2 linked regions of the Homo sapiens genome follow. The protein of the gene in region 2 purifies or fractionates together with the protein of the main gene of each other region. This does not show direct contact. Each region holds a gene or a part of one and is shown on either strand. Other genes may lie near its edges. The genes, in order: GALM and C12orf75.

Region 1 (3,819 bases), on a different chromosome or scaffold from region 2:
AATCCCATGTTAGTAGCTTGGCTATGGGTTTTCTGTGACTTGCAGAAGAGAATAAGCATGAACTTTTGAGCCGGGCACAGTGGCTCACGCCTATAATCCTAGCACTTTGGGAGGCCAAGGCAGGTGGATCACCTGAGGTCAGGGGTTTTGAGACCAGCCTGGCCAACATGGTGGAACCCTGTCTCTACTAAAAATACAAAAATTAAGCAGGCATGGTGGTAGGCGCCTGTAATCCTAGCTACTTGGAAGGCTGGGGCAGGAGAATCGCTTGGACCCAGGAGGCGGAGGTTGCAGTGAGCTGAGATCGTGCCCAGGAGGCGGAGGTTGCAGTGAGCTGAGATCGTGCCACTGCACTACAGCCTAGGCGACAAGAGTGAGACTCTGTCTCAAAAAACAAACCAAACAAACAAAGCATGAACTTTTGAATCATACAAGCTGATTCGAGTGTAGTGAACTCTGTCGTACAGTGTGACCTTGGACACAACTCTACTCTGAAAAGCCAGCCTGTGGCATTACCTGATTGACTGCATCAGGCCAGTTCTGAGTCTCCAGGCAGAAACCGGAGTGCTTGGGATAGACAGCTCCATTCTTGCCCTTTAATGTGCCATCCAGGAAGTTGCCCGTGTAAAACTGGACCCCGGGCTGGGTGGTGTATACTTCTAGTACCCGCCCGCTTGCAGCATGATGCACCCTGGTAAGAAATACAAACAACATGAGTCCAGGGCAGAAAAGCAGGTGGGGAGGAGTAGAAGCTGGGAAGCGGCTTTGAGACAGGAATCAGACCCAGCCACAGAGCAGGGACAAGATATAAGGAGGAGATGAAGGTAGGAAGAGCATGATGGAAAATTCTTCCAGTCTCAAAGGCAAGGCATGAGCAGGTGGCTTTCAGGATCCTCAGTAGCTTCTTTGGGGCATCACAAAACAGACTCACTCCTGCCAGCTGGGGAGTAGGGAGGAAGGCAGCAGCCAGGTTGGAGAGAGGAAGGTCCTGGAGAGGCTGAGATTCTTTTTTTTTTTTTTTTTTTTTTTGAAATAGAGTCTTTCTCTATTGCCCAGGCTGGAGTGCAGTGGCGCGACCTCGGCTCACTGCAACCTCAGCCTCCCGGGCTCAAGCAATTCTCCCACTTCAGCTCCCCAGTAGCTGGGACTGCAGGTGCGCACTACCATGTCCAGCTAATTTTTGTTTGTTTGTTTGTTTTGAGATGGAGTCTGGCTCTGTCACCCAGGGAGGAGTGCAGTGGTGCGATCTTGGCTCACTGCAACCTCCGCCCCCTTGGTTAAAGCAATTCTCCTGCCTCAGCCTCTAGAGTAGCTGGGATTACAGGTACCTGCCACCACATCCGGCTAATTTTTTGTACTTTTAGTATTGTCGGGGTTTCATCATGTTGGCCCAACTGGTCTTGAACTACTGACCTCAGGTGATCTGACCACCTCAGCCTCCAAAAGTGCTGGGATTACAGGCATGAGAGCCACTGCACCTGGCCTGAGATTCTTTTTTTTTTTTTGAGATGGAGTTTTGCTCTGTTGCCTAGCCTGGAGTGCAGTGGCGTGATCTCGGCTCACTACAACTTCCACCCCCTGGGTTCAAGTGATTCTCCTGCCTCAGCCTCCTGAGTAGCTGAGATTATAGGTGCCCACCACCATGCCTGGCTAATTTTTATATTTTTAGTAGAGACGGCGTTTCACCATGTTGGCGAGGCTGGTCTCAAACTCCTGACCTCAAGTGATCTGCCCACCTCAGCCACCTAAAGTGCTGGGATTACAGGCATGAGCCACCACGCCCAGCCCGGAGAAGGTCTTTGATCTTCTTTCTGTCACTATTTGGTTTGAGTCATTTTTTCTGCTTTATTTAAAAACTGTTGACCGGGTGCAGTGGCTTACACCTGTAATCCCAGCACTTTGGGAGGCCGAGGTGGGTGGATTACAAGGTCAGGAGTTCAAGACCAGCCTGACCAACATTGTGAAACCCCATCTCTACTAAAAATACAAAAATTAGCTGGGCATAGTGGCACGTGCCTGTTATCCCAGCTACTCAGGAGGCTGAGGCAGGAGAATCACTTGAACCCGGGAGGCGGAGGTTGCAGTAAACCTAGATCGCACCACTGCATTCCAGTCTGGGCGACAGAGCAAGACTCCGTCACACACACGCACACACACAAAACTGTTAATTCTGCAAACATTTATTCATTATTTGCTAGTGCCAAGGATGATATTAGGTGTTGGGGTAGAGGTAGGGCTTCACAAAGATGAAATGGCATGAGGAACTGGGATTTGGTGAGAAGGCGAGAGCGTGCACACAAGTGTCTATCGGTCAAGGCTGGAGGCGGTGAGTGCTGCAGGAGATGCCTAGCCTCCAACTGGCCATGGAGTAGGCAGGCATAAGTCACAGATCGAGAAAGCACAAAGGCTCTGGAAGTTCAGTGACAGCCGAGGTGACTTCACTAGGAAGAGTTAAGGCTTCTAACAGAAAATGGGCCTTAAAGAACAGGCAGAGAGGGAGAGAGCGGGTGCCAAGCAGGGGGAATAGGGGTAATGGCAGGTGGGGGACTGGGATAAATTCTACAGAGCTCACCTGTGCCATGGGAGCTTTGAGAAAATATGGGATGTGGTATTGGGTCACTTGTAGCATAGTAAATGCTATTGATATGGCCAGAGGAAAAGCTCCAAAGGAAAATAGGACTTGGTGTCATTTCTTCCTTACAGACTCAGGAAGTGAAAAGTACCTGACCTTGCACAAAAATGCTTTTCTTTAGATCCCTTCAGACAGAAATTGTGGTCAAAACCATTGAGATGGAAGTCCTGCAGGTGTTTTCCAAGCTCCACTGGCTTTCTCAGGTCGAATGCAGTGCCTTGCACTGGGGCAACTTCTCCTGATGGGAAGAGACAGAAAACAAAGGTGATAAATGCCCAAGTCTCATCTTTATATAGAGCCTCCACAAAGGCTCACTGGTTCTACTCTCTCCGCCTTCATTTTAATTTGTTAAGGAGATGGGAGCCCAGATCCTGGGAAACATGCAGAGACCCCATCTCTACCAAAATAATAAAATAAATAAATAAATAAATGTAAAAAATTAGCCAGGCATAGTGATGTGTCCCTGTGGTCTCAGCTACTCAGGAGGCTGAGGCAGGAGGATTGCTTGAGCCCAGGAGGTCGAGGCTACAGTGAACCATGATTGCACCACTGCACTCCAGCATAGGTAACAGAATGAGACTGTCTTAAAAAACAAATATGGAGAGGGTGGGGAAGAGAAAAAAAAAACCCTCAAATAAATAGAGTATATGGGAGTATGGGCTCAGGTTATATGCAAATACTGCACCATTTTATAGAAGGAACTAGAGTATCTAATGATTTAAGTATCAGTAGGGGGTCCTGGAACCAATCCTCCATGGATTCCAAGGGACAATGGAAAATATATACTCATAAATATATAGTAACATATACATAAAAGCCAGAGTTGTTCTAGCTGAATCAAGTACAGGTTCTGAGCAGCGCAGGTGGAAAACCCCAGGATAAGATGATGGCAGAGGTCCACTTCCTCTTAAAATTATGGCCCACCCAGGAGTAGTAACAGCCAGGTGCTAGAACCTTGTACCAAGTACAGAGAATACCAGTTTCCTCTGTAGCAGGCCAAATCACTCCAGCCATTTTTTCTTGAAGAGGAAAAGAAAAGGGCTCTGTTTCAGAGGCTTAAACAATGTTACGGTTGAGTTTTTGTTTTGTTTTGTTTTGTTTTGTTTTTTGAGATGGAGTCTTGCTCTGTCACCCAGGCTGGAGCGCAGTGGCGCGATCTCAGCTCAGTGCAACCTCCGCCTCCTGGG
Region 2 (3,819 bases):
ATGATTTCTAACCACAGCAAGGCCCTCAATATGCTGGGTCTTCTGCCATCAAGTATTCATGTCAGAGGCCCTGCCAAATTTTTTCAACAACATTTTAAACTAACTAATAATTCTAGCTGTCATTCACCGGGGGCAACAAGCATAATGCCAAGTATTTTCCTAGGATATTAAATATACTGTATTTGTAATCTGTCCCTCCAGCAGCTACTTCAGCTCTCTGTGCTCCCCACCTCCTCACTTGTAAAATGAAACATCATTATTCTGTCCATCAGATTATCATGGGTATGGAAGGAGATAACGTACAGAAAATGCTGGAAATCAGTGTATGGTGCACAGTCCTCAGTAAAGATTAGCTACTACTGTAAGAATGATGATGATGAAGATGATCACCCTGCACAGTTATTATATTATCCCAATTTCACAGATAATTATACTAAGGACACAATGTAACACAGCTAGCAAATGGTGAAGGGGATTTTAAACACAAGTCCCTCTGCTTCCAAAATGCAGGCTTTTTCAATGCTACTTCAACCCCATCCTCTTCACCCTCAGAAGACAGCGTTACCTTCTACTACATGGATGAGAAAAGAGCCCATCAGATACCCTAAGGTCTGTATCTATGAGGAGCAGAGAGGGCTCAGCTGACATGGGTGCATTAGACATGGTAAATTTATAAAGGATCCCAAGAAACTCAACATAAAAGATTTATCATTTCTTTTTTCCAAACACAAAAACAAAAACAAATTGCCAATGGGTTTTATGTCATTTCATTCCAAAATATTTTTCCCTGTATTTGCTACCTTCCATAATAATAAAATAGCTTTACCAAGGAAAGAATCTCAGTAAGATTCACTTTACATGTTTTAAGTGAAAGAAGTATTTGAATTACATTGTTTACATTGAGTAGCTATGGTTTTTTATTTTCAACAGCAAACATTATATTTGAGTCAACTTATTTAATACTGTTTCTTATTTGAAACGTAGTCATAATATTCTTATAAATATTGCTTAAGCTTTAAATCAAGACTTCTTTAAGAACACGAAAATTGATCTACAAAAAAAAATGCTTTCAATTAAATTCCAATTGTTTCGGTTTGCCCACTTACAATTTCTCCCCTTTTTTTTGGTAACGGCATCCCAATTTTTCCGTGGGGAATCACCCCTCTTCTGCTCTTTGGCCATATGGTAAGGTGGGGCTGATGATACTGATTGGCTCCAGTGGTGAGCACATGACTGCAGCCTGGCCAATGAGCACCCCACATTCTCCTGGCCCACTGACTGATTCCGAGATAGGAACATGACCCCAACGGGCCAAGAGAGCCCAGCCCTAGGACTTTTGATCAAACTACAAGGAAAAAGAAGCTGCTTTTTTCCACAGGAATTAGGAAGCTGATAAGATATAAACTGGTCCTGTTTGTCACCACTTGAGGAAAGCTGCCTAAGAATGAAGACGAAAGCAGAGAAGAGAATTTCTTCCTGTTGTTTGATCACCTGGATCCAGCTGTGACTACAGCCAAGTCCCTGGAGCTTTTCCACTCCACATGCCAATAAATTCCTTTGTGTTTGTTTGTTTAGGCCAGTTTAAACTGGGCTTCTGCCATTTCCTACCAAAAATATCCCAACGCAGCCTATTTGTGCCAAATAGCTGAGAATCTGCCACACTAAAATAAGAACATGGTTGATGTTGGCAGGTTTGTGAAAGCGGCCGAATGTCATTACCTTGAATTCACTGTTTTGTTTGTTTTGTTCAGTGTGTTACTGCACTGTGATTTAATTTCAAAGAGACAGAAAGAGAGGGAAAAATAGGCTTGTTTTCTGATACACATGTAGGCTTTTTCTTATGGTGATTAAGTTTCTAGACATTGTCAACCATGCTTTCAAGTGTTGAAGGTTAACCTAGCTAGGTTTTGAGTTCTCTAGCCTGTCATAGGATTTACATGCATCGTTATTCTCTCCACCACCAGAGAGAAACCCCCTCCCCAAACCACCATCAGCTTTTCTTACTCGCCTGGTTCCTGTCTTTTAGCCTACAGCAATATCCATGCCTCCTCCATGCCAAAAAATAATTTTTAAAAAAAGACAAAAGGAAAAACAAACTTCAATACACAAAATCAACCATACTCACAACTGGGCAGAAACAACCAAAAAACACTTGAAGAAAAGTGTAAAATGTTCATAATGATTGTCTCTGGTGGTAGAATAATAACTGAATTTTTCTCTTAAAAAATACTTTCCTGTACTTTCCAAATTTCCTTGGTATTCTTTTTCTAATACAGTATATTCTGAAAATTTGCCTCCTCTTAAAGCCACCAACATCCCTCCATTCCTTACCGCCAAACAGCATAAAAACCAAAGACCCACATCACTCTCTCCACTTCCTTGCACCTGGCTCACTTCCACTTTGACTTGGTTATCATTCACCCTGCTCAACTGAAACTACAGTCCCCAGGGTGACCAATGTGGCCATCATGACACACGCAATGACTTCTCTTCCTCCTTCAGCCCCCCATGACCTCTTTGGACTATCAGCCATCGCTTCCCTTGGCTCAAGTTTGACTGCAGCATTATCCTCAGAGTTTCCTTTCCTTTCCTTCCCCGTTCAGTCATTAAACAAATCTTATTAATTACATTTTCTAATGCATCTTGTTTGTATCACCTCTTCTCCTTTCCCTCTGCTATCTGACCCTCTTGTAGCCTCACTTCCATTATTCCTCTGTGCCTGCACCCTCCCTCATCCCATGTGTCACACTGCTTTGGGAGTTACTGCCCTAAAACTCAAACATAATCATTTAATTCCTCCACCTTAAAATCTCTATCAGCCCTTGAATGCATAAAAAAAAACAAGCACGATTATTGGCCTTGCACCCAAGGCCCTTCACAAGCCAGCCCTGCCCATCAACCTCATCTTTCACTTCTGCCCAGACTGTACCACAGGCACAGGCTCCAGGGGACACCACCTGGCTGGCTGGTCCCAGACCTACTGTCCTCTGGCACTCCCATGCCTTTTTTCATGCTTGTCCTCTGCCATGGGTTGCCATTTTTCTCCTTTTCTGCATGAACTCTTGTTCATCCTTCAATTCCAAGACCAGCATTAAATTCTGAACACTGGAATAATTAGCACTTACCACACTGTATTTTGGTCCCTAGTAGACAGTGAACTACTTCAGGACAGATACATCATTTTATTTATTATTATATACTGACTTCTCACCTATAGAAAACAGCAAATAAATAAGAAAAACGAGTAGTAAAAATTGCAGACCTTTCCTAGAGAATTGATTTTTTAAATATATAGTATTTCTGGCTTCCAAAAATAACAACCATTTTCCCACAAAGACTTTCCTGTGGTCTGCATAATATTGTGTTTGCCCTATTCTAAGTTCTTTACTCTCAGTACTTATTCTACTATTTTGGCCAATCCTTCTGGTTTGGGAATCAGTCTGTTTAGATTTTAAAAAAAAATTTTAATGTGCATAATAAAAAAATTAAGTGTCATCTTAATTTCTTAGCTCGTCATTCATTCATGGCATCACCTAATATTACAGTCAAGATTTATAAATCTATAGCTTCCACTTAAAAAATTGAACGTGCCTGAATATACCTTTTGTGTAAGGAAAAGTAATATTATAATGTTCTTTAACTTTTTCCAGGTAAATCCACTGCATTTGTTTTTAAAAGGTCATTTATTTAATAAATTACTTTATTTTAAAGTTATAGGACATAGAATGAGGTATAGTCAAGGGAAATCTGAAGAATTCAGGATTCTAAATAGTGAAATAGTTAAGTAGTTAAATGGCATCTCGCATCCTGGAACGGTTA

Evidence for each region.
Region 1: the proteins of C12orf75 (region 2) and GALM purify together in Homo sapiens (affinity purification with mass spectrometry; one large-scale study listed by BioGRID and IntAct). This does not show direct contact.

Annotation. Positions count from the first base shown.
Region 1 is NC_000002.12:38,728,607-38,732,425, reverse strand, and holds part of GALM (galactose mutarotase), read right to left. Parts: intron 2,871-3,819; coding exon 2,729-2,870; intron 692-2,728; coding exon 517-691; intron 1-516. UniProt on the Homo sapiens protein: Mutarotase that catalyzes the interconversion of beta-D-galactose and alpha-D-galactose during galactose metabolism.
Region 2 is NC_000012.12:105,350,874-105,354,692, reverse strand, and holds part of C12orf75 (overexpressed in colon carcinoma 1 protein), read right to left. Parts: intron 1-3,819.